Linked DNA regions of Homo sapiens: all the other regions are linked to region 1. The links come from fine-mapping of genetic effects on plasma protein levels. A gene starts in region 1. Each other region holds a variant in brackets. All regions are shown on one strand. Distances are between the middles of the regions. Region 1 holds the start of ENPP6 (ectonucleotide pyrophosphatase/phosphodiesterase 6). Region 2 overlaps ENPP6 (ectonucleotide pyrophosphatase/phosphodiesterase 6). Region 3 overlaps ENPP6 (ectonucleotide pyrophosphatase/phosphodiesterase 6). Region 4 overlaps ENPP6 (ectonucleotide pyrophosphatase/phosphodiesterase 6).

What was found. PIP is the posterior inclusion probability: the model's chance that the variant is causal. The UK Biobank Pharma Proteomics Project read protein levels with antibody pairs (Olink). The fine-mapping took linkage between variants from a reference panel, not from the people measured, so its PIPs are less certain.
Region 2: its variant is fine-mapped to the plasma level of the ENPP6 protein (UK Biobank, PIP above 0.99). The variant lies in the coding sequence of ENPP6. If it changes the protein, the assay may bind it differently, which can mimic a change of level.
Region 3: its variant is fine-mapped to the plasma level of the ENPP6 protein (UK Biobank, PIP 0.97).
Region 4: its variant is fine-mapped to the plasma level of the ENPP6 protein (UK Biobank, PIP 0.98).

Annotation. Positions count from the first base shown.
Region 1 is chr4:184,214,259-184,221,654 of GRCh38, reverse strand. It overlaps ENPP6 (ectonucleotide pyrophosphatase/phosphodiesterase 6), which reads left to right and starts at 3,782. Exons shown (of 8, transcript NM_153343.4): 1 at 3,782-4,076. The coding sequence starts at 3,836.
Region 2 is chr4:184,149,841-184,157,236 of GRCh38, reverse strand. It overlaps ENPP6 (ectonucleotide pyrophosphatase/phosphodiesterase 6), which reads left to right. Exons shown (of 8, transcript NM_153343.4): 2 at 3,504-3,683. Among named protein-coding and RNA genes, the nearest start is that of ENPP6, 64 kb to the left of the region's middle. The variant C/A (reference allele first, on the strand shown) is at 3,558.
Region 3 is chr4:184,201,102-184,208,497 of GRCh38, reverse strand. The region is part of intron 1 of ENPP6 (ectonucleotide pyrophosphatase/phosphodiesterase 6); the gene reads left to right. Among named protein-coding and RNA genes, the nearest start is that of ENPP6, 13 kb to the left of the region's middle. The variant C/A (reference allele first, on the strand shown) is at 4,345.
Region 4 is chr4:184,185,588-184,192,983 of GRCh38, reverse strand. All of the region lies in intron 1 of ENPP6 (ectonucleotide pyrophosphatase/phosphodiesterase 6), which reads left to right. Among named protein-coding and RNA genes, the nearest start is that of ENPP6, 29 kb to the left of the region's middle. The variant C/T (reference allele first, on the strand shown) is at 4,143.

The sequences.
Region 1 (7,396 bases):
TTTGTTTTGTTTTGTTTTTCTGAGACTCTTTCCCTTCCATCTCACCTGTCTCTCCATAAAGGGGAGGCACCAGGGTGCTGACTAATCTGGACAGCACATTTCCTGAGAGCTCATGCATGTCCCTAGAGAGACTTGCAGCAGCTTTAGGACAAAGGTTCTTTCAACTTCTGGAGTAAATTTTTCATATTTTGCATTATCTAAGTGAAACCCCTGTGGACAATGACTTTACAGTATTGCCAACCCTTGAAAACAAGTTGCAATAAGCACTTATAAGCATTAGGTACTGATAACCACTCCCAAGTGAAGACATCCAGATCATAGACACATAGGTTTTGGATCACAAGACTTTGGGCACTTAATGTTAACCACCTGTATGACATATGGCTTTTAACTATTGCTTTTTAGCTTTCATTTCCAATCTTTTCTAGGTTAGACGGTTCAAGACCTGGAGACTGGCTTTGAGCAACCCTAGGATTACCTTGGCTTGAATTCCATCCAATACGTCTCTTTCTTCATATATTGGTATGTATATTAGAGATTCATATTGGCAATCATTTATTGATCCAAAGCTTTAGAGACATTGTCTAAACATGGTCATAACACAATATGATCATAAACATTATCATAAAACAATGATGACCCCACCCCAGATACATCACAACAATCTTTGTGGAGCCTTGGGAGCCTCTGGGGACCTGTGAACACGCTAATCTGAAGCAAGTTACTTCTGAGTTGACACCCACAACAGCTCAATGAGGCACTCAGGGAGCCATATTTTGAGTGTACCCTTGTTAGTAGTGGAGAAAAGTGGAAGTCCCTCTTATATTCATCTTTAACATTTGGAGTGCTTAACCTCTCCCAAAGTGAGCTCAGAAGCCATCCCAAAGTGAGCTCAGAGGCCATCCCAAAGTAAATCACTTGGACTTGCACTGTGACTCCAGCTTCGCAGTCCAGACAATCCCTGAGCCTCTCAGGAACTCACAGAGCACAGCTATCTGGGCCTCCTACCTCCATGGGCCCTCACCAGGGGAAGAAGTTCTCCTTCTAGCACATGTGATGTTCAGTGTCTAGGAGGCCCATCAACCCATCAGGCTGCATCTGCCTTTTCCCCTCCCCTCCCCTCCCTTCTCCTTCCCTTCCCTTCCCTCTCCTCCCTTTCCCTTCCCTTCTCTTCTCTTCTTCCCTTCCCTCCCTTTCCCTTCTTCCCATCCCTCCCTTTCCCTTCTTCCCATCCCTCCCTTTCCCTTCTTCCCATCTCTTCTCTTCCCTTCTTCCCTTTTCTTCCCTTCTTCCCTTTTTCCTTTCCCTTCCCTTCCCTCCCCTCCCTTCCATTCCCCTCACCTTCCCTTTCCTTCTCTTCTTCCCTTCTTCCCTTCCTTTCCCTTCCCTTCCCTTCCCTCCCCTCCCCTCCCTTCCCCGCCCCTTTCCTTCCCTTCTCTTCTTCGCTTTTCTTCCCTTCTTCTCTTCCCTTCCCTTCTTCCCTTCTATTCTTTTTTTTCCTTCCCTTCCCCTTCCCCTTTCCCTTTCCTTTCCCTTCTTTCCCTCCCTTCCCTTCCCCTCCCCTTCCCTTCCCTTCCCTTCCCTTCTTCGCTTTTCTTCCCTTCTTCTCTTCCTTTCCCTTCTTCCCTTCTATTCTTTTTTCCTCCTTCCCTTCCCCTTCCCCTTACCCTTTCCCTTCCCTTCCTTTCCCTCCCTTCCCTTCCCCTCCCCTTCCCTTCCCTTCCCTTCTTCGCTTTTCTTCCCTTTTTCTCTTCCTTTCCCTTCTTCCCTTCTATTCTTTTTTTCCTCCTTCCCTTCCCCTTTCCCTTTCCCTTCCCTTCCTTTCCCTCCCTTCCCTTTCCTCCCCTTCCTTCCCCTCCCCTTTCCTTCCCTTCCTCCCTTTTCTTCCTTTCTTCTCTTCCCTTCTGTTCTCTTTCCTTCTTCCCTTTTCTTCCCTTCCCTTTCTTTCTCTTTCTCCCTTCCTTCGTTTACTTTTCTTTCTTTCCTTTTTCTTTCTTTCTTCCTTCCTTTCCTCTTTCTTCTCTCTTTTCTTTTTCTCTGTTTATAGCAACAATACCACACAGCTCAAAGAAAAAAGAATAACATTGTTTTCAAAGTAACAACCTTTTAGGATAAACTCCCCTTTTCCTTATTTTTTAATAAGAAAAAAATTTAAATTTAATTATAAAAAGCATTACCTCTTATTGGAAAAAAGAATTCTGATCCTTGGCCAAGTCCCCTGAGAGGGGAGTGGTAATTTGGCCAATGTGTTTCTCTTTTGCAGCATAATTTAAAAAGTGACATGGTGATCCTGTGTTTGGGCTTGACTCAAATACAACAGAAAAAGAGAAGGAGAAAAGACACAAGCAGAGGGCAGAGGTGGAAGAGGGATTTTGGGGTTGACTGAGAGTGGCTGGTGTGGCTGGTGTCTATCTTCCTTCCCTGGAAAGTTTGCCCAGAGCCTGCAAGTTTCCTCAGGAGACAAGCAATGTTATAATGCGAATAACATCTAACATTTGTTCAACACTTGCTATGGACCATGCATGTTTTATGTCTTTTTTTTTTTGAGGCAGGGCCTCACTCTGTTGCCCAGCCTGGAGTGCAGTGATACAATCACAGCTTACTGCAGATATGACCACCTGTGCTCACACAATCCTCCCACCTCAGCCTCCTGTGTAGCTGGGACCAGGCACGTGCCGCCAGGCCCAGCTAATTTTTTAATTTTTTATAGAGATGGGGTCTTGCTGTGTTGCCCAGGCTGGTCTCAAGCTCCTGGCCTCAAGCAATCCTTCCACCTTGGCCTCCCAAAGTGGGCCACTGCACTCAGCCATGTTTTATAAGCCTTCACATGAATTGTGTTGTTTAATTTTATGTAGCATGACGGAGCCACTCTAGGGAACCCCTGGACTCTGGGTACTTTGTGCTAACTCTGTCTGCTCCCCAGCTCACATCTGCCTCCCTGTCACTAACCTCCTCCTATTTTCCACTCCGCCTAGTCTTCTCGGTCCCAAAGCCTGCATGGTAATTTCTAGCTCTGCTTTTCCATCTCAAGCTCTCAATCTCCAGCTCTCTATTTCATTTCCATCCTCCTGGGGCAATGCTGCTTCAGACCATTCTGCCAGTAATGATTTCCCATTGTCCAACTCTGGAAGCTTCTCATTGGCTCTAGGGCTCTTCTACGAACCACCTCCTCCTATGGGCACCAGCAGCTAAATCACATTTGAAAAATAAAATAATAACAAATAATAACACTGCATATAAAAACATAAGTGGCCAAGACATAGACAAATAACTTTTTTAAGTGCTGTGTCTACAGAGACACAGCTGGGAAGTTTACAAATGGGCCCACCGAAACGTATTGTTTCCTGTTTATGCACTGAGTCCAGAGGTTTGCGTTACTAAATTCTAAGTGAAAAAGAGTTTAAATGAGGCCATGATGTGGGATAACAGCAAATTAAAATCTTGCCCTTTTCCTTGGTTCCTCCCTTTGGTTAGCTCAACTGCAAAGTTAGTGTTGACTTTGTCATCTTCTAAAATTCCACCTCTGTGGGTGCTTGTATTTCTGGAACGTTCACCAAAAATAATAAGTTTGAACTCTCTCCCCTGGTGTTAATTCTGGGTTGTTTGGAACCCAGTTTATCTGAAGGAGTCGGTCTCTGGACTTTCTAGTAAAGGGTGAGCATAGATGTGTGGAAAAGGGGGTGCTGTTCCTTTAAATTCTGCAAGTGAACTTGACTCAGGAAGGCCAGCGGCTCAAGGTCCAGCCCCTGGAAGAGAGAATAGCTACAGATTCTCCATCCTCAGTCTTTGCAAGGCGACAGCTGTGCCAGCCGGGCTCTGGCAGGCTCCTGGCAGCATGGCAGTGAAGCTTGGGACCCTCCTGCTGGCCCTTGCCCTGGGCCTGGCCCAGCCAGCCTCTGCCCGCCGGAAGCTGCTGGTGTTTCTGCTGGATGGTTTTCGCTCAGACTACATCAGTGATGAGGCGCTGGAGTCATTGCCTGGTTTCAAAGAGATTGTGAGCAGGGGAGTAAAAGTGGATTACTTGACTCCAGACTTCCCTAGTCTCTCGTATCCCAATTATTATACCCTAATGACTGGTGAGTACCATGTCCTCTTCTGGGCAGGGAGGGGAGGGCTGGCATCCAGCAGGGAACAGTGAGCTCCTGGCATTGGAGTCTTATTTAAATGCTCTGGATTCTCTAGTCCTTTGGGACATCAAAGGTAGATAAAAAAAATCTGTGTTCTTGGCTGAGAAGACTTTTGTTTTCGTGGCGGTATTGTTTCCCAAAAGTTATCCCAAGGACCTGTTTTGGATTCTCAGTGCGGAGGACAGAGAACTATAGCAGTACATGATATTTGACGATATTAAAAGTGGTCGTTTATTTTAGAAAGAGAAATTCTAATGAGGCTCATATTTTCTAAGTTCAAGTCTGCAAAAGCAACAGGTGTCCGTGCATGTGTCCCAAACTCCTTCTGTCCCTTTTCTCTGTGGTCATGTCATCCTGGCACCCTGTGGGCTTGTTTCTCAGTGTGTTGGACTGTGAAAGTACCTGTGGGGTCCTCAGAGGGGAGTGGTGCTCCCGGATTACTTGGGGAAGGGGGGATGTTTAGGTCATATCCTTCCCTGTGACTTAGCAATGCCACCTTCCCCTTCTTTTGCCTTTTTGGCCAGGTAAAATGATACGGAGAAGAAAAAGCTTGTGTCGTTCAGGTTCCCCATTTGTGATTTGCAGCATCTACAAAAGACCAACCAGCAAAAACTCCACAAAACAAACAAAAACCTCGGCTAACCCAGACTGCCTGGGCTTGGGATAGCTGATTTTCCTAAGGACGGCCTTCATCTGAAATTGCCAGGACTCCAAACGCGACTGCATGAACCTGAGCCTCTATCCGTGCGATAATAGAATGTGCAGCCCTCTCTCTGCTCACAGAGTTGGATTCCCAGTTTCTGGTTTGTTTTTCAGCTATAACCTTTGTAAAGGCAGCGAGAGGCTCTCAGAAAGAATTTAGCAAACTATCCAGGGAGGCTGCTAAGAATGCACTGTTATTGCTGGTTATGCGGGACTCAGCTATGCACTCTGAGCACAGAGAGAGCTCTGCTAATTATGTTAACAGAAAGAAAATGAGATCTCTGATATCTCATGGACCTCCACAGAACACTAAAGCCAAAAGAGTCTAAAACAGACATTTATATCTCTGACTTTGTGCATAGATACTATATACACATGTACGGAAAAATGCCATAAACTGATGCCCCAAACTGAAGGGGAGAGATACTTCGGAGAAATAAAAATGAGGGCATGAGAGAGAGAAAAAAATCAGACTGCACACAAGCAAGGAAGTTATGTATTTGTTTTTTATTTCCCCCAGCAGACAAAAAAACAGTCTCTAAGATAAACAGAATTAACAAAATTCTCTGGCCCTCCCCTGGCATGTGTCTCCCCTTGCAGGGAAGCAGTTTGCAGGCTGCCGGCTCTCACATAGACGTGATTGTGTGGACAGCCGACTCCAGCTCTGTGCAGCGGCTTCACACACACAGCCCACCCCCACTCCAGCTGTCTTTCAGAGCCTTGCCAGGGGACCCAATTCATAAACTGCCACGCCACGTGCAGCTTCTGCAATCTTAGTGGAAAATGAACAAAATCCATCTTAGAAAGGACTCAAGTAAGTAAAAGGACCATTACAGACTCCACAGAGACACTAAGCCAATGACATGGCCTTTTGTTTGTCAGATCCACACTCCTGATATTGGCACAAGGAATAATTTGCACACAGCCTCCGTCATGCTGAGACACACCTTCTTTTCCGGCTGTGGGTGTTTTCCCTTGTGCTGTCCTGAGAGAAGGGCCCCTTCCTTTATGGGCAGCACAGGTCCCGTGAGTGTCTGACAAAGATCTCACCCTTGCTTTCAAACTGAGGCTGGCCCGAGGAAGCCACAGGTCTCCATATGTGTTAAGTCTCTGTATTTTCAGATGGCCAAATGTATTCACTGATGTGGAAGTCTGCTTGGTCTATATGTTTCATAGAAGCTACCCTGCACAAGGGAGGGATCTAGCAAGGCTCATGTTTCTGTACAAATGTCCTTGGGTATGATTTGTCTTGTACCTACTGGGCAGACTTGCAGACTTGAAGCAGAATTCGCAGGCTGGGAAATGCCAGGCCATGAACCTGGTATCACCTCCACTGTCTTGGAACTGACTCAGAGTTAAATTTAGACTATTTTCCCCAATACCCATACTTATTTTTCCACCTGATGCTGAAAACCTCCTCTTTTACTCATATAAAGAAGGATATAGCCATTGGGAATTGTAGCTAAACATATGGTTTGAGCATTTGAGCATTTTATGAACCAACAAAATTGCTATGCTAGATCTTTTTGGAAGCAAAAGATATGCTGTTTTAGGGTTCCTCAGCATTCACAAGAGAGGCTAAGCTCTCACTTCATTACCCGAATTATTGCTCAGAATACAGAAAGCCCTTGGTGTTCTTCCCTTTGCATAACGAGGAGTGATGAGTTGTTGGAAAGAATGCTGGCCCTTGAGCTGGGAGAACTTGCTTGGAGACTTCAGGCAAAATAAAATGAGATGAACTGCCGGGGCTGCATCAGGCCGGGATTTCAGGTGCTGCTGGATGCAGACATAGAACTAGGCAATGCATGGGGAATTTTATTTTATTTTATTTCACTTTAAATTCTGGGACACATGTGCAGAACGTGCAGTTTTGTTACAGAGGCATACATGTGCCATGGTGGTTTGCTGCACCTGTCAACTCGTCATCTAGATTTTAAGCCCTGCATGCGTTAGGTATTTGTCCTAATGCTCTCCCTCCCTGTGCCCCCGATCCTCCAACAGGGCCCAGTGTGTGATGTCCCCCTCCCTGTGTCCATGTGTTCTCATTGTTCAACTCCCACTTATGAGTGAGAACATGTGGTGTTTGATTTTCTGTCCCTGTGTTAGTTTGCTGAAAATGATGGCTTCTAGCTTCATCCATGTCTCTGCAAAGGACATGAACACATTCTTTTTTATGGCTGCATAGTATTCCATGGTGTATATGTGCCACATTTTCTTTATCCAGTCTATCATTGATGGGCATTTGGGTTGGTTCAAAGTCTTTGCTATTTGCACAGGTAATTTTAAAGTTAGGGCTGGACCCTCCTAGGAGGCCTTCGTGTAGAAAGTATGCAAATAGCGGAAACTCCCTTGAGACAGAGAATTTCACAGTGGATGGGGATGGGGAATCAACAGGCCTATTTGTGAGCAACCTTGAAACCATCTAGCCCAGTTGCTGCCATGAAGCCACCATGGCTGATTATTTATTTGCCTCAAAACATGTTTATATCAGGACAAAAGCAACCAAAATGCCAATCATGATCATGAAGATGAATCAAACAATTGAATGCCAGGAACATTGAATCTTT
Region 2 (7,396 bases), 64 kb after region 1:
GGTGGGGTCAGCGGATGCAAAACTACTAAGAAGAAACATCAAGGGATTCTGGCCAATGAATTCTGGCTAGATCTACTCAACAGAACTCTTGCTGAAGGCAGGCAGGGTGGTGAGATATTGAGGGTGGTCAGATACCAAGCGTGGAGGATTATCACTAAACTGACTTAGCAGGATTCTTGCTCAACCTGGACTCTACAAGAAAAAGGAAGGAAGCCCAAGTTTGAGTCTAGTTGAGCAGAGGACTCAGAAGTCAAAGAGAAAGTCTCTGTGACCATGAGTTATAGGTAAGATGGACATATCCTCTACCTTCTCGTGAGATGTGAAGGCCAGCCATTTCTGAGATGAAACATATAACATGGTGCAGAAGTTTCTGGGGGCCTTGCTAAGAAACTTCTTGTGATGGTCACTACGTCGAACATGCTTGAGTAAGACTCTGTGGAATGAACACCGAAGGTGTCATATCCCACCCCCTTCATACAGCAGTTCTAGCTATGGGAACGATTCCAGGAGCTCTCTCTGAGAAAGGCAAACACATATTTCAAAGCCCCCAGAGTAGTCATTTGGAGGAGGAAGAGCTGTAGACATTCCTTACATCATACCTGAAAACCACTTGCAATTGTGGTGTTGGAGGATGTCAGGAAAGTTTCTACTCAAGCCTTGAGCAAAGAGACCAAAAAACCACACCACATCCAAGCTCTGTTTGGAAAGCACAACCAGAGAAAAACCCAGAACTGCAGTTGTATAAAAATAGATATGGGTCAGGCAGGAATATGGAGATGAGAGCTCGTGGGCTGCAGAAGCCAGTACATTGTGTTCTGTTCTGTTCTTTCAGCCACCAATTTTACCGAGGCAATAAAAATGAAAGAGCAAGAGAGGCAGAGGGTTGGTAGGGAAATCAGCTTGAGTCTGAGTCGACTTCGACTGTTCCAAGCACAGACTGCAGCCTTACTGTATTCATGGGAAGGCGGGACAAGATCTGAAGCAGCCTCCTCCTGCCAGCTTCCGGGAAAGGCTGCTCTTCCCAGAGCAAAGGAAGCCCTGGGGACAGCACACCCTCCCATCTCAGCTCAGGGCCCAATCCACCAAAAGAAGAAACCCAACTTTCTCCACAGGAGTCTGAGGTGACCTTCTTGAAAGCGCTCCACCTTATAGGAATTCTCTGGGAGAATGTTCTCTCCATCTCTCTCTCTGTCTCTCTCTGTCTCCCTCTGTGTTTCTGTCTCTCTCACACCTGTGCATGCATGCACACACACAATCCAGCCATACAACAGCTCTGCAATCCACAAGAAGCTCCTTATAATTTTCTACTCAGAGAGCAGAGAACAAAGAAGAATGAGTGAGTTTGGACACTTTAGAGTCCAGAGTGCTAAATATGTGCGTTGAAGAGAAGAGAGAAATTTTCACCAAATGATATGGGGTTTCTGAGATATACAAGTATAGATTATATGTACTTTAAAAACTGTTTTTTGGTTGCTTCATGCTTCCTTGTATGCAGCCTTGTGAAAACTACATCATGTGAAGCCTCCATTTATCTCTGGGTTTCATGGCCTTGTTCTAAAATGGTCCAAACAATTCAAGCTTGGAAGCAGAGATCCCTCCACCCCTCTCCCTCGGCATCTCTCCCTATTATTCCCATGTCTGATATCCCTGGTCCTTTCCTGATGATTCATTCAGAGGCTCTTCTTTGGTTCCTGACCTCAGGAATGATGCTTCCCACACCCCCTTCCAATTTTGCACATTTGCTCAGCTTCTTTGCACACCAGCTGCAGTTGAGATAACCTCCTGCACTTGGAAGGGCATCAGAGAACATCTCTCTATGAGGAAAGACTGTCCACGAAGGAGGCCTTTTCCTACAGATATGATCATGGTTATTTTGCCTTGTGAAAGGATGAGTAAGCATCATTAGGATAATACAATTTGTGACACAGAATGCAAAATTTTGAATAAAGGAAATAGATAAGTACTTTTACTTGTAAGAGGGGCTCTCTTAATATGATTCAACTTTCATATACTAAAAACGATAATATAGTTGAACCAATAGATTAGGACCCTACTTTTAATGAGTTGGTGAGAACATACTAGGAATTATCCTCTGCAACAGGGTGAGCGAGGGTCATCATAACTCTGAAGTTGTGGCTGCAACCTGTCCTCCTTCTCAGACCCAGCCCCGGGAAGCCTGGCTCTTTTACACAGAGGACCCTCTGTTGAGTATTAAATTACAAGTCTCTTGAGGATGGGCATGACATTTATTCAGATTGGAATCTCTACATCTATCACAGCCTACAATACATAGGACTATATATGTAAGAGCACTGAATACATGTTAGTTGAAACAATAAATAAAATAACTTCCTTAACCATTGCCAAAATTGCTCAACATCTTAATTTTATTTTATTTTTAATTGTATTAATCTTTTTAATGTGAAAGTTTTGGTCAAGATCAAAACACTAATTCTACAGCTTTGGGTGAAAACCATTTTTGCTGGGATCTCTGGGAGCACAGTAGCATAGTTTGTGGCCTGCCTTGCTTTCTGGGATGAAATGAAAGGTTTTTCCATTTGATATTTTTAGTGTCTATTTTCCAAATAGTATTTTATAATTTTTCTTTGTTTCTGTTTAAAAATAAAATTTTGGGAGGGGTGGGGAGAAGAAACAACAACAGTAAAACAAAGAAGAAAAGCCACTTGATTAAGCATAGTTAGGGAGCTCAGTGAAGCATGTTTCGTCCTGGTGCCAAATGACGCTCACTAAAATTGCAGCAATTTTTGATGCACTTGCCAATGTTTGTGTTATTTTTACTTTAAAGATGTAACAGATTGCTCCAAAATAAATAATTTAAGCCTAATGTTTCAAAAGAGTCCAAGCGTTTGCGTCTCTCACTTCTGGCTTGTCTTCTGGGACTAAGCTGTGCTCAACAGAACCAGCCCTCGTTTCTGTATAACACTGCATTTGAAGGGTTGTTTTCCTGCTTTGTTTTTCAAAGTTGAATCTATTTTTCGCTATTCTGTTCCAAACGTCATAGGTTTTATCACTGTTCAGAGCTGAAGCAACAACTCCTCTTATTTAAGAAAGGAAAGAATAAACGCTATAACAGCTAGATTGCTGATCTCACGGGAGGAGGGTTTGGAGGGTGCAGAGAGGGCTCTGGGGTGAGAATCTGAGACCAAGTCTCAGAGGAATCCACAGATGTCCATGCTAATTCATATTTAGACTTCAAGCTCTGCACAGTGTCCTCAGTGTAACTTAAAACAGCTGACTTGACAGGGTGACGTCACTCTAAATGACCCCACCCTCCATCAATTAGTGGACATCTAACTGGATTGTCTACCTTCATGGCACAGCTTAAGAAAAAAAAATCTGATTTTTTTTTAAAGTCAAAAGCAAATCTTTATGCTGTTCTGTACTTCCTAAACGAGCACGAATGGCTTATATGATCAAGAAACAAAGATAAAAATAGAAACCACCAGAACCGTAAACTGACAGCTGTGTTCTCATTGACATAGGCCGCCATTGTGAAGTCCATCAGATGATCGGGAACTACATGTGGGACCCCACCA[C/A]CAACAAGTCCTTTGACATTGGCGTCAACAAAGACAGCCTAATGCCTCTCTGGTGGAATGGATCAGAACCTCTGTGGGTCACTCTGACCAAGGCCAAAAGGAAGGTCTACATGTACTACTGGCCAGGTGAGTGTGTGAACATCCATTCCAAATCTCAAATCATCATAGAGTCTCTGAGGACAGTCGGTGTCAAGTTACTGTTTGAAGACCAAGCCGTGGTTTGGAAAATGGGATCTTTATTTAAGAAATATGTATTGGCTGGGCACGGTGGCTCAGGCCTGTAATCCCAGCACTTTGGGAGGCCGAGGTGGGTGGATCACCTGAAGTCAGGAGTTCGAGACCAACCTGACCAACATGGGGAAACCCTGTCTCTACTAAAAATACAAAATTAGCTGGGGTGGTGGTGCATGCCTGTAATCCAAGCTACTCGGGAGGCTGAGACAGGAGGATCGCTTGAACCCAGGAGGCGGAGGTTGTGGTGAGCTGAGATTGCGCCATTGCACTCCAGTCTGGGCAACAAGAGCAAAACTCAATCTTGAAAAAAAAAGAAAAAGAAAAGAAATATGTCTTATGGGCACATTTTTGAAAAATGTGTTTTTAACTCTCTAACATCAGACCAGAGATAATGCTATTTCCTGATTCTCTTGACATAGCAAACACCACAGGATAGCTTGCTTTTTTTCATGTGCAAAATGTTGGATATACAGGAGAGAGAAATTATAGGGTGCTTACTTGCTTTACAAAAAAAAAAACAGTGTACCATTTCCATACGTCATTGAGCTCCTCTACAATATTGAAAAGAGAATTGAAAGCACTCGCTATTTTTTGGTAGTCCATGAAATGAAGTCCCTTTGTGTTAAGACTCCCATGCTACATCCTAGCTCAACGAGGTAAGTAGTCATGCAAACTGCCTCGGCTGCTGTGAGAAGTCCTCGGGACACCCTCATCTTGGTCACTGAATATCTTTCATTAAGGATGAGAGGATTCAGTGATAACAATACAACCCGCTTCCCATTGTCTTTCCATTGGTGGGATTCATTATTTAGGTAAGTGGTCAGTTTACCTTTCCCACGCCCGTGGCAATAGACACTTTTTTCCTGATTCTCAATGGTGTCATCCTGATGATGGCCATTATGGAGGAAGATACCAGGGGAGGCCTAGAACGTTGAAGGCATAAATGAAGAGCAGCCTGTAGGAGATGGGGTGAAGTGGCTGAGGGGGTCGAACTGGTCTGGATTGAGGACAGCGGCAGCCTGATGGGTCTGTGAGTGGGCGGTGGGTTGTGAGATGTGTAGTCTGCAGGGAGGGGGCAGTGGAGAGGGGGTGAAGGCCCACAAGGATTGCGTGGGCCTTCAGCAGGAGTTTGGAGGATGCTGGATAGAGGTGGGTGTGTGGGGAGCTGCTGGGGCACTCCAGGCTATGCAACTCTCAGAGGTACATGGAACACAGACACACGGAGACCGCGGAGGGCAGCCCACCACCCAGCTGTGGTGCGGCGTGGCGCGCACCGTACAAGCTGCTGCAGAGCAGTGGCCTCACCCGCAGGTGAGCTTCTGAAGGCCAGGGCAGGCTGCATGAATTCACAGCTGGGCCAAGCAACAAAGACATAGCCAGCACAGGCTCTCCCAGCAGACACAGCTTCAGGGGGGTTGATCACAATTTCTTCAGAAGACACCTAAGATTCCTTCCATAGCAGCCACCTCGGCTGACGCAAGACACCTTTGAGCAAAGGAAGAGGAAGAGTTTAGGAGGATTCCATTATCTTACAAGGAGATAACTTTTCGTGGAGTTGGACTAGATTTAAGGAAGGAAGTCACTGCACGGAGCAGGCTCATCAGGCTTGCTAGAGGAGCCAAATCCAGGGGTGAGTTTGACTCTTCTAGCAAGTGTGATGAGGTCAAAGCACAAAGATTTTGTTGCACTTTGAGGTCATTCTCAGAGGCATTATTATCAACAAATTCATACACAGGCATAGCAGAGGGAATGGATTGGGCACACTGCATTAGGGACCACCCGGAAACAAATCTGAGGAGCATCAAGATGAATGTGGCCAATACCATGAGGATTATCTTCCATGATAACTGGATAGTTTGACTTTCACTATCTTAGAACTTAAGTTTTTCCTCCTTTGAAGAACACACCCTCACACACAAAACCTTCCTGCCAACAACCCTTGAGCCCCCTCCACATAAGATCTCCTGGAGAGGGCCTTTCATCTGCCAGGATGCCAGTGCTACAGCCAAGTGGGAGGAGATCCTACTGAGGGGCAGTCGCCGTATTGCACACACTTCTCTCTGCAGCAGTACAGGGTATTATTATTGTGCTTTATCTCCTTTTGTTTTTGACAGAGTTTCACTCTTGTTGCCCAGGCTGGAGTGCAGTGGCATGACCTCTGCTCACTGTAACCTCTGCCTCCCCAGGTCAAGTGATTCTCTTGCCTCAGCCTCCAGAGTAGCTGGGATTACAGGCGTGCACCACCACGCCTGGCTAATTTTTGTATTTTTGGTAGAGACAGGGTTTTACCGTGTTGGCCAGGCTGGTCTTGATCTGCTGACCTCAGGTGATCCACCCACCTTGGCCTCCCAAAGTGCTGGGATTATAGGCATGAGCCACTGCTCCAGGCTTTTAGCTCCTCTTGGAGAATACAAATTTATATAGCACTGAGTGTCTAAAGAAATCTGAAAGCTAATTTGCATGAAAAATATCTTGTTGCTCCTCCAAAACAGCTCCTTCAGGATAAGAAGGGACCAATATCTTCCTCTGATTCACAGTCTAACAGCTAATGGGATGTGACAAAAATGCCTTAAGATCATTTACAGTGTTAACTGTCAGGAGGAAAGAAGCTATAAAGATAGCCTCCTAGAGTTTCCTCAGTGACCTAAATGAAGATTTGCTGAAGATCTGGCTGTGCTGAAGTCTTCATAGATATAGAATAAAGTCTCTAGTCTCTCAGACACTGTCTAGTCCTTCTAAACTGGATACTCAAATGAAACTCTCAGAGAGCCAGCTGTCTCTGCTGCCAGCCCAGCAAGGTGTGCCCTGGCACCCTCTCATCTTCCTGGGGGGCAGCTGCAGTATTTCTGGTTGCTGCTATCCTTTCTCTGTCTACCCTGGTTCCCTCCAGCCTCAGCCAATAGCCCAATGAGCACTCATGTGTCTCTGCAAGATTAAGTGAGGCGCAGGGGCATTTCTTCAAAACACAACTTGATTGTATTTTTCTTCTTAAATCCTCCTCTTCCTTCTCCACTCCCCACAGGATATTGTACAGACCTCTCGGTGAGGCCTGGAAAATCTTCGTTGCTCTAGTGAACTGGGTTATGACACGCTGAGTTTCGCCATTAAGTCAATATTTAGAAGTGCAATTTAGAAATGGCACTAGTTCAAGTCTTCCTGTCAGGTAGATAAAGCAGCAGGCTGAAAAATTGACCCACAGTGAAGAGTCCAACATACTCCACCTCAAGTCTTGAGGCGTTTAATATAGTTCAACAGGCCCTTTAGCACGCCACCCAGTGTTGCCATTGGAGTGCAGGGAGAAATATGCCTCTGGAAATGATCCCAGGCCCTAAGTCAGGGGAGGCCCCCCAAATCAGCCAGAAATTGTATATATGACCCAGTAGTGTACTGCAAGGAGTAAGAGCTGAGTGTGTGTTGTTCACTCACTTAATCCCTCCACCTTATCCTTCTAGTTGAATGTTAAAAGAATTGGCAGGGGTTGGGGGCGGTGAGGAAAAGACTCCAACATTCACTTCATATTGGAAAGAACCCAAAGCAGAGAATAACTATGGGAGGAAGGAGGGAAAATAGGGAATATGGGAGAATAGTAAGATATGGTGTAGAAA
Region 3 (7,396 bases), 13 kb after region 1:
CGATTTTCCAGATGCCATCCGTCACCCCTTTCTTTGACTCGGAAAGGGAACTCCCTGACCCCTTGTGCTTCCCAAGTGAGGCAATGCCTCGCCCCGCTTCGGCTCGCGCAGGGTGCGCGCACCCACTGACCTGCGCCCACTGTCTGGCACTCCCTAGTGAGATGAACCCAGTACCTCAGATGGAAATGCAGAAATCACCCATCTTCTGCATCGCTCACGCTGGGAGCTGTAGACCAGAGCTGTTCCTATTTGGCCATCTTGGCTCCTCCCACTGAATCTTAAAACAGGCCTTTCACCAGGGAGATTACATTCAAGCAGGGGAGGCAGAACACTCGCGAATGGGTGCCCACTAATATTCTAAAGTGTGTAGCAAGGTGTTGTGAGCCCAAATGTGTCCTCATCCTCCTGTCCCCCAGTTCAAGTTGGGTTTCCAGTACCTCAGAATGTAACCACATTTGGAGATAAGGTCTTTAAAGGTGACCAAGTTAAAACAAGGCCATTAGAGCGGGCTATTCCAATATGACAGTATAGGAAGGCGAAGAGACACAGGCATGCGCACGTGCAGAGAAAAGGCCATCTGAGGACACAGCAAGGCGGCCCTCGCAGGCGGTGGAGAGGGGCCCAGGAGACACCAATGCTGCTAACACCTTGCTCATGAACTGTGAACAAATAAGTTGCTGTTGTTGGAGCCACTCCATCTGTGGTACTTTATAATGGCAGCCCAAGCGAATGAATACACAGAGAATAGGGAGTAGGGCCCCAGCGTGCTGCAGAGGACCAGGGAGAGGAGGCGTTCCTTCCAGTTGGAGTAGTGTGAAAAAGCATTTTAAAGAGGAGAGATCTGAGCTGGAAGAAACAGCCACCGGCGTGGTGTGTGTCTCTACATCTTACTTTAGGCATAAGCTCTCTCTCTGAAGAGCGGTGTGTGGATCAACTAGTGAAAACACAACCACAGTTTAAATGCCCTTGGAATGCTTTCTGTTTTAGTGTATCTTACCGTGGATCTTTTCGTAAAGTTATTCTCCCTTTGGGGTAAATTCACATTTGACTGAAGTGGAGTTTAACATAAAGTCAAGGAAAGAAAGCAGTGATTTGTTCAATCCAGGTCATGGGTAAGAGGGAAATGCTGCATCTGTTTTGAGGCAGCGTAACTTAGCATCATTTTGCTAAGGCTAATGGTAACATTTGTTTGCAATTTTCAAACACTTCCGGTTAAGCAGTTGAGGAAAGTGGCCCAGAAACATTCTGAGTAGCGGGGAAGCCAGTCTAGAATTTTATCTTTACTGCCAGTAAACTACCAAGAGATGAACAGATGCTGAAATAAGTTTGTTCCACAGTATATTATTATTATTTCAACATTTAGACACTAGTAAATAAAGTGCAGGGAAATTCAATGTTTTGTTTCAGGCACCAAAGAACGTCGTGGCAGAGCTGAGATGGGGGAGCAGGCATCAGAGACCCCGTTCTCACACAGCAACTGGCCAGCGCCTAGGCGAGTAGGCATCAGAGGTCCCGTTCTCACACAGTAACTGGCCAGGGCCTAAGCCTGCATCTTAGAGTGGCCAGAAGGTTGTGCGAGTGACCTGAGACCCAAGGATAGAGATCTCCCCAAGACAGTCCGGGAAGCAGCGAGAGACCGAATCATCGTGCTCCTCTGTGGAAATCAAGGCAACAACAGGGATGTTAACTACTCAGCATTACTATTTGTGCCACGGCATTTTGTCTCGCACTCCTAGAAATCACCTGTGACACAAATTCTTACTAGATATCATGTTCTGGGGTAAAACAGCAGAGTAAGGTATACTTCCTACCACCCCACCTTTTAAGAAAACATCTGATTTAAATTAAAACTGGACCAAAGGCAATCAATGCAGAAAGTACTTGAACAATCGTGTTTCGAGAGAGCCCACATCCTCAGCCTTCTGCAGAATTCAAGCTTCCTGGCCGGGCGCGGTGGCTCACGCCTGTAATCCCAGCACTTTGGGAGGCCGAGACGGGCGGATCACGAGGTCAGGAGATCGAGACCATCCTGGCTAACACGGTGAAACCCCGTCTCTACTAAAAATACAAAAATTAGCCGGGCCTGGTGGCGCCCGCCTGTAGTCCCAGCTACTCGGGAGGCTGAGGCAGGAGAATGGCGGGAACCCGGGAGGCGGAGCTTGCAGTGAGCCGAGATCGCGCCACTGCACTCCAGCCTGGGCGACAGAGCGAGACTCCGTCTCAAAAAAAAAAAAAAAAAAAAAAAATTCAAGCTTCCTTTGAGGGGCTGTTCACAGACTCTGCATACGCACAGCTCCAGGTAGGGTGGAGACAGCCTCCCTGGTCCCCTCCGCCCTCCTTCCCCCAGGATTAGCATTTACATGGGGACATTGCCCCAGCTTGTGAGCCTCCTTCAATGTAGGTACCTCCTGAAATAAATGATCTCTGTTCGGCATGCCCTCTTCCTGTCTTCCTACTCTCTCTTGCACCAAATCCAGCGAAGCTTCTGTTTGGAACAGTGTCCTCCCGGGCGTCCTGGTCATTCCCAGCCTTAGTTCCCTGGCTGGGAGCTGCATCTGCCTGACGGCTCACAGGTCCCAGGACCCTGTCCTCTCTCAGTTTCCTTTTACTTTACTCACTCCTCCTTCATCCTTTCCCTTGGTTCCTCCTGATCTCCCTGACCTTCCTCTGTCTCACAGTGAAATCAGCTGACCTTTCAAGGTCGATCCTCAGCCTCTCCTCCCCCAACCTCCATTGCTGACCCCTGGCTGAAGCCACCACCCTGACTGCCTGGAGCCTCCTCTACTCCAGCTCCCTCTCGCTGCCTGCCCCACAACTAGAGCAGCCCTGTTTTGAAAGCAGTGCCTGCCCTACAACCAGAGCAGCCCTGGGAAAGCAGTCCTGATGACACCACTCCTCTGTTCAAACCCTCCAGCGGGTTCTGTTGTACCCCAAGTGGAATCTAACGCTCTTGCAGACCTGGCCCTATAGGTCACCCAGCCCCTTCGGGGCCTCGCTCCCACCACCCTTCTCTTCGCTTGCTTGTGTCCCGCTGGGCGTGCTTGAGCACGCTGCTCCTCCTGGCTGCTTCCCTTCTGCTTGTTCCCCAGAAAGGCCCAAGCTGGGCATCGCTGCATTCTTCAGATCTGCCCCACAAGGTCACCGTGGCGGATGCGTCTTCCCCAGCCACCCCACCAGCGCTCTCTCTCCCTCTTACTTTCTTTATTTTCCATCACGGCACCAGATTATTTATTTCTGTCTTCTCCAAATAAAACTTATTATAGTGGGCTGGGCACAGAGGCTGACACCTATAATCCCAGCACTTTGGGAGGCCGAGGCAGGTGGATCATTTGAGGTCAGGAGTTCGAGACCAGCCTGTCTAACACGGTGAAACCCTGTCTCTACTAAAAATACAAAAAAATTTAGCTGGTTGTAGTGGTGGGTGCCATAATCCCAGCTACTTGGGAGGCTGAGGCAGGAGAATCGCTTGAACCCAGGAGGAGGAGGTTGCAGTGAGCCAAGATGGTGCCACTGCACTCCAGCCTGGGCAACATGAGCGAAACTTCATCTCAAAAAAAAAATTACTATAGCGAAAAAGCATTATAATGATGATTAAGACATTCAGAGTTTCAGGGAAATGAATGATCACTTTGATGTTCGACACTTCTAAACTAATAAGGAGGAGAAAAAACTACAATCATGCTTTGCTCATATGAAAGCAATTTGCATTTAGTGAACTGATTACCCTTTACGTCTAGTAATCTTACATATCTCAAAATGTGTCTTTCAGTTTTGTTTTAAATTTTGATTATAAGGTTGGAGTCAGAAAGAGGCCTGGAAGGAGAGTCACCTCCAAGGAGAGCTGTGTCAAAGTAGGAGATGAAAGAGACTGGGGATGGTGGGAGAAAGTTTAACCAGGAACCAGTGGTCAGCACAGCCCAAGGGAGAGCCTCCTTGTAGTGAAGATCGCTGAAGTCGAGAAAGTGGAGCCAACAGCCACGCATGGAACCAGGCACATGATTCAGAACCAGCGTGGAACACTGTGAGGACGGTTCAGGCCTAGGTGCGAGTGGTCTGGCTGTCGGACCTAGGGACGCATGTGGCAGCTTAAAGGGACTTGCACGGCCACTCTTGTGTTTTCAGCCTCTGTCCCAGGCTGCTTAGGTGGCCAGGCTATGTATGCCAGCATCGCAAGGAGCTACTTAGATGTTTAAAAATATCAGGCCACGTTATGGGCTAATTTGTACACCCCCAAAACCCATGTGTTTATGCCCTGCCCCCTAATATCTCCGAATGTGACTGTATTTGAAGATAGGATCTTTAAAGAAGTAATTAAGGTAAAATGAGGTCACTAGGGTGGGCACT[C/A]ATCCAGTATCGCTGGTATCTTTATAAGGAGAGGAGATTAGGACCCAGACGGGCACAGAGGGAAGACCACATATAGACACAGGGGGAAGGCGGCTGCCTGCAGACCAAGGAGAGAGGCCTCAGAAGAAATCAACCCTGATGACATCTTGATCTCAAACTCCCAGCCTCCAGAACTGTAAGAAACTAGATTTCTTTTGTTTAAGCCACCCAGCCTGTGTTACTTTGTCCTGACAGCCATTGGAAAGCAATATAAACGGGATCGTGACACTAGGCTGCTAATGGAAAAATGCAGGGTTTTTTTACACAGCCCACTTCCATGACCAAACCTACTCACTGAGAGTTTCTGGTGACTTCTGCCCTGAAATTGAGGCAGTCATGGTGTGTTAGCTTCCTAGAGCTGCTATAGCAAATTTGGATTCCCAAAGTCTGAAATCCAGGTGCGGGCAGGGCCGTGTTCTCTCTGAAGTCTCAAGGGGAGAACATGTTCTGCGCTTTCCCCTGCCTTCTGGTGTCACCAGCAATCCTCGGTATTCCTTGGCCGGTAGATACATCACTCCAACCTCTGCTTCCATTGTCACGGGGCATTCTCTGTGTTCCTCTGTGCTTCTCCTTCTTGTAAGGACACCAGCCATATTGAATTAGGGCCCACCTTAATGACATCATCTTAACTTGACTATGTCTGCAAAGGGCTTATTTCTAATAAGGTCACATTCACAGGTCCTGAGGCTGGGAACTTCAGTATATCTTCTTGGGGGCCACAAGTCAACCCATTACGCATGGTCCAGTGGAGAAAGTTACGGATTTAGCTGTCAAAGATCAAACTTAATCTATTCTGTCACTTTTTGACTTTCAGAATTTGAACAGCTTCTTTTGAGTGTTAATATTTTGTTTTGTTTTGTTTTAGAGACAGAGTCTCGTCCTATCATCCAGGCTGGAGTGCAGTGGCACGATCTCAGCTCACTGCAACCTCCGCTTCCCTGGTTCAAGCGATTCTCCTGCCTCAGCCTCCTGAGTAGCTGGGATTACAGGCACCTGCCCCCACACTTGGCTATTTTTTTTTTTTTGTATTTTTAGTAGAGATGGGGTTTCACCATGTTGGCCAAGCTGGTCTCAAACTCCTGACCTCAGGTGATCCACCTGCTTTGGCCTCCCAAAGTGCTGGGATTACAGGCATGAGCCATTGTGTCCAGTGAGTGTTAATATTTTATCAGTAGAATGTAGAAAGTAAATGTTACCCAATAGGCTTGCTGTGAGAACAGAATGAGCAAATATATGTGTAAACTCACCATTAGTAAGAGTGTACATATTACCCCCTTTATCAGTAAGGTGAGGCTGAGTTATGTTGTTGCAACAAGCAATTCCACACCACGTCTGTCTTAGAATAGCTCAGGTTTATTCCTCACTCATGTGCGTGGCCTTGAGGAATGACCTCCCCTCCGATTTCCTCTTCATTCTGGGACCCAGGCTGAAAAAAGCAACTTCTAAATGAGACATGCTGCTCTCATGGCAGAGGTAAAAGATAAAATAGAACATTGTGATCATGGATAGTTTGGGCAAAGGAGGAGAAGTGAGCGTGGTCAGGTCAGAAGGAGGGGTGCTGAGCCCATTTGCCATCTGGGTGTGGGTCGGGGGTTGCAGAGAATAGAGTGTGTCAAAAACGTGCAATTGATGAAAGTCTATGAAAGCCATACCAAAGGATAGTCCAACAGGCTCCTCCTCCCCTCCTGTTCCACTCCAGACTTCACCGCATCTATCCTTTATGATGGGCTGTAAGTGAGGGGGAGAGTTGAATTTGAAGGGCACCCATGAGGCAGAACTTGCTGATTGGCTGATGAGTGAATACGAAAGAAGAGCCTGAACAGATGCCACAGCTGCAAGATCTTCTGAAGTCTGAGTAAAGGGGCTCTCATTAGCACAGATGGGAAAGTTTGAAGGGCTATTAATCTCAGTGAGATTTATTTGGAAAAGTAATTTTCATCAAATTATATTTCAATTTGAGTAAGATATTCACTTGGCATTAGCCCTTTAGGGGATCAGAGACCATGTCTTAAAGGAGAGTTCAAGAAGCATGCAGAATACCACTGAGGCAAAGGAGAGAAATTGATCCTGTGGGTCCTAGTGGACCCCAGTAAATGGACTTCCTATCTCACTGCTTGCTACCCAGCTGGTAGAGAATATTTCTCACGGATGCACAGTTAAAATCTGTCTTCCCACCTGAATTAACTTTTGTCAACATTTTGTCATATACTTCCCAGAGACACCTAACAACATTTTTTCCACTTAAACTATACTCTCTGTAATGAGCCTCGATTAAGCTGCCTAAAGAAGCAGGCATGGTAGGCGAGGTGTCCAGCAATTGAAGCTAGAAGTGGGTAAGAGCACTACTAACCAGCCATGCCCTGAGGAAAAAAAAAAATGTGTTCTAAGAATTTACTAAAATAATGTCTCCCAGCACATCATTATTTAAGCTCCTATCAACAGACCTCTCTGCACTGAAGTGTCACTTTTCAAAAAGTATGTTTCTTTTGGCTTCCATGGTGACCAGAGGGTGTTCTGATTATATGGCATTCAGCTGCTGGAAACTTGCTCCATGAAGAAGGGAGTGGTTAGAGTAGGGGGCAAAGCTGTAAAATGTGGTGAAAGCTTTTGATTGTAATAACAGCAAAGGCGTTTCCAGAAGGCTTGTCCACGTGGAGCCACTGCGGTCTACACACCATGGCGATCTCACAACACCCCCCCGCCCCGCCTCCCTCACCCCAATGTTGATTGATAGGATCATGTGCCTCCTGCCAAGGCTTTGGGGATGGCTTGACCCCTGCAGCTCCAGTTCCTGCTCAGCATGAGTGCTGTGCCAAAAGTGGGTTAAAGGGCATTTCAGATTAATTTGGAGGGAGCCTGACTCAGCAGGTTAACATTCATCTCAGAGACACCTTCAGCAACACCTGCTCGAGTTTCAGAGCCCCTCTCCATGAATAGGTCCATTGTGTCCACACGATAACCAGGCAGAGACCTGGGGCAGAGCTGGGGGTCCTGGGGGCGCGCGTGCTGTGTT
Region 4 (7,396 bases), 29 kb after region 1:
ATTATCTTTTTAAAATTAGAGCCACTCTGATAAAAGAGCCATTATTGTCTTTTTTATCAAAGCCATTCCAGGGTTATGAAGTGGCATTTCATGGTTGTTTTATTTGCATTTCCCTAAAAACTAATGATGTTGAGCATTTTCTTTTCATGTGCTTGTGGACTGTGTGATAATTTCTTTGGAGAAATGTTTATACAAATCCCTTTACTCATTTTAAAAATTAGATTGTCATTTTATTTTTAGTTGTAGGAGTTCTTTCTATATGCTAGATATAAATTCCTTATGGGATATATGATTGGCATGTATTTTTCTTCCAGGCTGTGAGTTGTCTTTTCACTTTCTTCATGGGATGTCTTGCTGTACAAAAGCATTTATTGTTGATGAAGTCCTATTTATCAACTTTTCCTTTTACGACTTGTACTTTTTGTGTCATAACTACAAAATAATTGCCTAACCCAACATCGTGATGATTTACTCCTATGTTTTCTTATAAGACAAAGAAAATTTCTAGCTCTTACATTTAAGTTTGTGACCCCTTTTGAATTAATGTTTATATACAGTGTGAGGTAGTTGTCCCCGCACTATTTGTGAAAAAGACTATTCCTTTTCCATTGACTATTTCTGACAGCTTTGTCAAAAATCAATTGATCATAAATATTAGAGATTATTCTTGGGCTCTCAATTTTATTCCAATAATCTCTTGATGTTTAGGTGTATCCTTATGGTGAGATCAGACTATCATGATTGCCACGCTTTGTAGAAAGTTTCAAAATCAGTATACATAAATCCTTTAATTTTGTTCTTTTTAAGATTGTTTTGGCTATTCCAAGTCACTTGTACTTTCATATTAAATTTGGGAAGAACATGTCAACTTTTGCCAAAGCCAGCTGGAATTTGGATAAGGATTGTGTTGAATCTGTAGTCCAACTTAGGTAGTATTGCCATCTTAACAATACTAAGTCTTCTGATCCATGAATATGGGCTGTCTTTCCATGTATTTGGGTTGTTGCAGTTTCCTTCAGCAATGCTTTGTAGCTTTCAGCGTACATTTGGTACTTCTTTTGCTAAATATTGCTAAATGTTTTATTTTTTTTGACGTTAATGTGAATGGAATTATCTTCAGAATTTTATTTTTGCAGTATATAAACTGTAATTATCTTCCTACCTTACTGAATTTGTTTATTAGTTAAAAGTTTTTTGTGTATTCCTGAGGATTTTCTGCATACAAGAATATACAAGATCATATTTTCTGCAGATAAAGGCAGTTACTTCTTCCTTTCTAATCTTGATGCCTTCAATTGATCTTTACAGTCACGTTAGGAGTTATGTACAGGCATTTTACAGATGAGAGAACTTTCATCTAGAGAAGTTAAGTGCCTTGCCTGAGGTCAACTAGTCAGGAAGTGAGTGGATCAGGACCAGAACAGAGGGCTTCTGCTTCCCCCTCCATCGCTCTGCGTTCTCAACACACTGCCTCCAGTTGGCAGAGTCAGGATCTGAGAAGACAATGGATGGCCTATCTCTGTAGCACTCCTATTGTCTTCCTTTATTACAAGTAGCCGGATTCAGTCAAGCAGGGAGCAGAACGTACATTTCCCAAATGTCTACCGTATTTTGTGCTATGCTCAGTGCTAGGTACGTTCAAACACTATTCCAATTAATCCTCATAAAACCCTATAAAGTAGTCACAATTGTTCCCATTTTACAAATGAGGAAACCAAGGCTCTGAGATATTAAATTACTTGTTCAAGATTACAGGGCCCATAAATGGAAGAACTATGAGTACAAAATCCTGTGCTCCCCACAACATCATGCTGCCTCTTCCTTCTGACTTCTAAGGAAGCAGCTCTCAGGGCCGCCATCCTGCATAGGCATCTACGTGTCTCTCCCTTAGACAGTGATCTTGTAGCTGCATATGCACGTGGCATACGCCTGCACACATAGACACCCATAGTACATGAGCCACTGCCTTTCCAGGCTTCCTTCAGACTAAGCAACCTCCTGGGTAACTATTTTTTAAACCCTCCTTTGTGTGTCTCAATGGACAATGTGAACAATAAGCGCTTCTGGGGTTGAGCATAAAAGAGAGGATTCAACATCAGACACTTAGCTACTTATCTCAAATGGTCAAGGCTGCACAGTTGTGAAAAATGGCTTAAACAGGCCTCTTTTGATAAGTCACATCTGGGATACTGCCCCAGACCACCAAGATGCAGCTCTGGACAAGTTGCTTCTGATTATACTTGGTTATGGGGACCTGGGAGGGCATGGTGGTCCCAATGAGGGCAGGGTCTGACTCACCCTACATCCCACTCAATGTGTCTCATGCTCCCTGACACTTAGTAAGCACTCTATAAATGCCTCCTTGTATATGTTTTAAAGTTTCTTGAAGCTGCTGTATCCTAAATAGTTAGCCAGCTTTCCTTTTTAGCTGTTCTCTTCCCCATCTCATTTCCACTCCAAACAGAAAAGAAATTCCTGCTGCCAATCTATCAAGGGTGATATGTTTAGTCTTAGAGCAGATGAAACATCCAAATGAAAATGAGGGAGATCAGCTCAGACATATCTCCCCGATTCTCTCTGCTCTCTTCTCCCCAGTGACAGTCCACACACAAACCAGGATAAGTTCTAGAAGCACAAAGCAGAAATGGAAGGAATTAAGTATTTTGCAAACTCTGTCAAATATTGTGAGGGGCAAGAAGGCACCATACTTAAACTCTATGGTTTACCTTTTCACTAAATTCCAGATCGGTGAGTAATCCAGTACTCTGGTGGTTTAAACAACTTCTTTTGTATTACCCAAGAGATATTAGGTTTGAGAGTTCAAGCCACTTATAACAGAGAGTCTGGAAAATTTCTCAGAGACGGCGGTTCCCTGAGGCGACATGGTGTGTGGTAGGTTTTCTATTTTAGCACCCCTGCTTCCAGGTGGTTTCATGGTCAGCAAGAGAATATGATTTTTAATAACATGAAATAAAAAGGCAATGCTTCTGCCAAAATGAGATTACCTTGTATTTTACTCAGCCATATTTTATATTTTCTCAGTTCTTTGCCAAATCCAACCACTTGTCTCCTCACACGAGTTCCCTTCCTTTTCATGCTCACATGCTGATCCTGGGCTCTGGCTGGCTCGCTCCTCTCCATCTCTTGGAGATATTCATGGGAGGAGAGTCAGGATGGACCAGAAGTGGGAGACACGGGTTCTACTCCGGGCTGTGGTGAGATCTAAACCTTGTGGCTTCAGACAAAGTCTCCTTGGGTTCAAGTTGCTTTTCTTTAAAAATGAGGACATTAAGGACTCCACGGAGTTTATTTGAACATTCCTGCAGGGTCCTCTCTTTCTTCTGCCCTTCTGGCCTCCTCTGGTCTGTTTCCTCATGAGGCTTCCTGACTTTGTCCGTGGAAAGGCAGGACTGTCATTGGTCATGAGCCCCGTTCACTGCCAGTGCTGCGGACTCAAACCGGAGCTTCAGCATTGCTTAGCACCGGAAGCCTGTCCATGCTTACCTTTACTTTTTAAAGCGTGAATTTAGTCTTTCTATACCCCTTTCCCTAGATGAGACTCAAAGTTATGATTTAAAAAGAGGGAAAGTGGCCTGATTTGAGGTAGGATTTGTGGGGTTAGAAATCTAGGCCAGGAATTTCTGTTGAAAATCACATCTTTCACTACCAGTTTCCCTGAGGGACAAAGTCTAATTCTTTTTGGGAACTATCTAATGGACACCATCCCCTCTGGTTTCAACACAGCACCCCTGACTCAGGAAACTGACAGGACTTCCTTTCCTTCCATGGCCAGGAAAGGAAGGCGGCTGAGAGGAGAAATCCCCTGGCATATACATGAGGAACTATTTATTATATCAACTCCAATCCACTTTCCCAGCACGGCCCAGCTCTCTTAGTGTGCAGAGCCACTCGGCTCCAAGCTGCAGCCCCAAAGCACTTGACAGACTTGAATGGTCACCCTGGTGGGTCACAGGTGGAAAGTCCAGGAAATTACATTTTCAAAGAATGGCAAATGCATCCACTTGCTTAATCACCTTATCTGTCATTTTGCTTCCTAGGAATCTTTCTAGATCTATTCAGGTTCAAGTCTAAGTGTTAATAGGGCCAGGGTTTGACTTCTTCATGGAAATCAGTACCTCCTC[C/T]GTCACATAAAATGCAAAGCTGGTCCTACCAGTAGGCCCAGGGGATTAACAATCAGTCTCTCATGTGTGAGCGTGAGACATCTTTATCTTGAATGAAGCCTCCCACATTTAATTGGCAATACATTTTCCTGAATCTTTTCTCAGAAGACTTGCTTCTCTCTCCAGCTAAACTGTTCATAAATCTGTAGCCCTCTGGAGCAATGTGGCATCGTCTCCCCACGTGGCTTCTGAACCAGCTTTCCCTCTCACGTGAGATGCCTGTGTGTGGTCTCATGGAGCTGATTCCTAGCAGCCATATGCAAACACAGCGTGGCAAGACTGTGACACAGCTTCAGGACAGAAGCTTTGAGTCGTGTGCCAACCCTTGACTCAAGCAGAGCGTGGGACCCCAGATCGTCAATTTGGGGGGATGGGGGTGAAAATGGCAGTTGGTGAAGAAATTACCTTCTTTGTTTGGAACAAAAACCTAGGACAATATTTTCTTTGGTTGAAGGAATTGGGTTAACAACATACATTGTAGGTCTTGGAATATACCCCACAGACGCCAACCTCCGTTGATGTTTTTCATAAAGAGAAACGACTGGGAAAGGCTTCAGGCACAACGGAAACTGACAGGACTTCTAGAATTGAAACATAAACATAAGGATGGAAACAAAACACCCCTGGGTTTGTTCAACCCATGGGCCATGTTATACTCTGTCCTGGAATGGTCTTCTGTAAGAGCATGCTACCATAAAGGTAACACACAGAAGCTGACTCCAAGAGGCCTGTGCTTCCATACATCATCTATCGTGACTCTAGCATCCAGTCATAAACCTTATTTTAATTAAAGAATGTATGCTCCAAGAGCAGGACTTGGTCTTGTTCTGCGCTGTATCCCCAGCTCCTGGACAGTCTGGTTTATTCTTCATTCATTCATTCTTCATTCAACAAAATATTTTCAGAGCTTGCTATGTGTAAATAATAGGTGTCTATTCATTCATTTATTCAAGAAGTATCTCTCACCTTCTATGGAGCCAGAGATACTCTTCTAGGCCCTGGAGATACAAATGAACAAAACAGGGCAAAGTTTCTACCCTCCTGAAATTTACATTCTTGTGAAATGTTGCAGACAAATAACACATATATAAACAATGTCAGGTGGTAATAAATTCTATGGAAAAAGTTAGACGAGGCACCAAGAATGACCACAGTGCCATTTTACCTAGGGTGGTCTGCAAATGTCTTTCTGATAAGATAAAATTTGAGCAGAGACCTGAGCAAGGCCCTGGAGCTGGCCTGTAGATATCCGAGAACAAAGCATTCCAGGCAGGGAACAGCGACAGCTCTGAGGCAGGTGCATGTTTGGGATATTGGAGGAAGCCAAGAGCCAGTGTAGCAAGAGCAAAAAAGGAGCAATGAGAGTGGCAGTGAGGTCTGAGCGGTGTGCAGTGGTGTGGTGGCCTTCACGCAGTACTGCCCAGATCTGCTGCAGGGAGCAGAGTCAACCAATGGTCCCAGCTGCTGCTCCTTTAAGTCCATCACCTTGGTGCCAAAGTTTCACTTCTCCCAAGCTGACCCTGACCAATGACCAAGCAAGGTCAGGCTCCTGGTGCAGGCCTTTTCCTCTAACAGGTGACCTTGGCCCAGCTTGAGGATTCCCAGCAATCTGGTCAAACCTCCTTAGATTTGCAGACATCCTTTCTACCCAGTCCTTTCCTTCCGCATCTCCTCTCACAGATGCCAGACCTTACAAATGGGAGATTTTACGGCCTGCTTCTGCTTCCTCCCCTCCCTCTGTGTGGAACGAGTGCTTTCTTAACACATTTCTCTTATGTTTAACCTTGTCTTGGCGTCTGCTTCTTGAAGAACCTGAATGGACAAGAGGCCGCGGCAGGTCCTGTAGGTCGTGGCGCAGACTTTGGATCTTATTCTGAGTGTGGGGCTCACCTTTGGAGGGTTCTGAGTAGGGGGGTAGTGTGATAAGACTTTCATTTTAGAAAGATCACTCTAGCACCGGGGCATGGAGAGCAATGGCCAGTGAGGCTGAGGGCGGAAGCAGAGAGGCCTGTAGGAGACTTCAGCCCAGGCCACGGCGGGGCAAATGCATGAACTGGGATTCCACTACTGATGTCATCCTCTACCCTTCCTGCTCTTCCTAAATTCACTCAAAACCTCCTAATGGCCAGACCCAATGGCATCTCTCAAGATCTCTCTGTGTATTTAACCTTTTGACCATTCCTGCCTCCTAGAAACTGTCTCTTTATTGGGGTCCAAGTTTTCTCCTTCCTCTCAACCTCACCTTCTAGAACCTCCCACTGACTTCTCTTTGCTGGCCCCTTTATATTGGAGCTCCTCAGAGCCTGGTCCTTATTTCTCTTTCTTTCTTGTTCTCTCTTCTCACCTTGTCGGTCTCATGCACATTTATTGTTAATTCCCATTTGCCACCACCCCGCCCCCAGAAAACTGCTAATCTACTTTGCGTCTTTTTAGCTTTGCCTTTTGTAGATATTTTATCAAAACAGAATCATTCAATCTGTGGTCTCTTGGGTCTTGATTCTTTTACTGAGCATACTGTTTTTGAGCTTCATTTTCATTCACACTGGAACATGTATCCATAGTTTTTTCCTTGTTTACAGCAGAATAGTATCCCATTGTATGGCTATTCCTCAAGTTTTTATAATAGAAAATTTCAAAGTACAAAAACATTGAAATAGTATTATGAATATCTATGTACGCTTTATCAAGTTTCTCAAATTGTTAAGGTTTGGCACATTTGCTTTATTTAATCACTGAGAAATATAGGTTTCTCTTTTGTTTCTGCTGGACCAGCTGAGGGTAAATTGCTAACACCTGACACTTCACCGCTAAATCCTTCAGCATGGGTAAGGGTAAGATATTCTCTACACAACCACAATGCTACCCAACAAATTTAACATTGATTCAACAAATCAACTAATTAGACTATTTTCCATATTTTCAGGTTTTCTCAATGGCCAAAAAAGAATCCCTTAGAACATTATTTGAAATCTAAAATCTAATCAAGTTTCAAGCAGTACGTTTGGTTGCCATGTTCCTTTGCTCTGCATTAAGAGAAATTGTTTTGCCTTTTTGTTTTGTATTTTGGTCCTTCATGATGTTGGCAATCCTAAAAATCCCAGCCAGTTGTCTTGTACAATATGCCACATTTTGGATTTGTCTGATTGTTTTTCTTCATGAATAGATTCAAGTTAAACCTTTTTTGTCAAGAATACTACAACTTTTTTGTTTTTAAT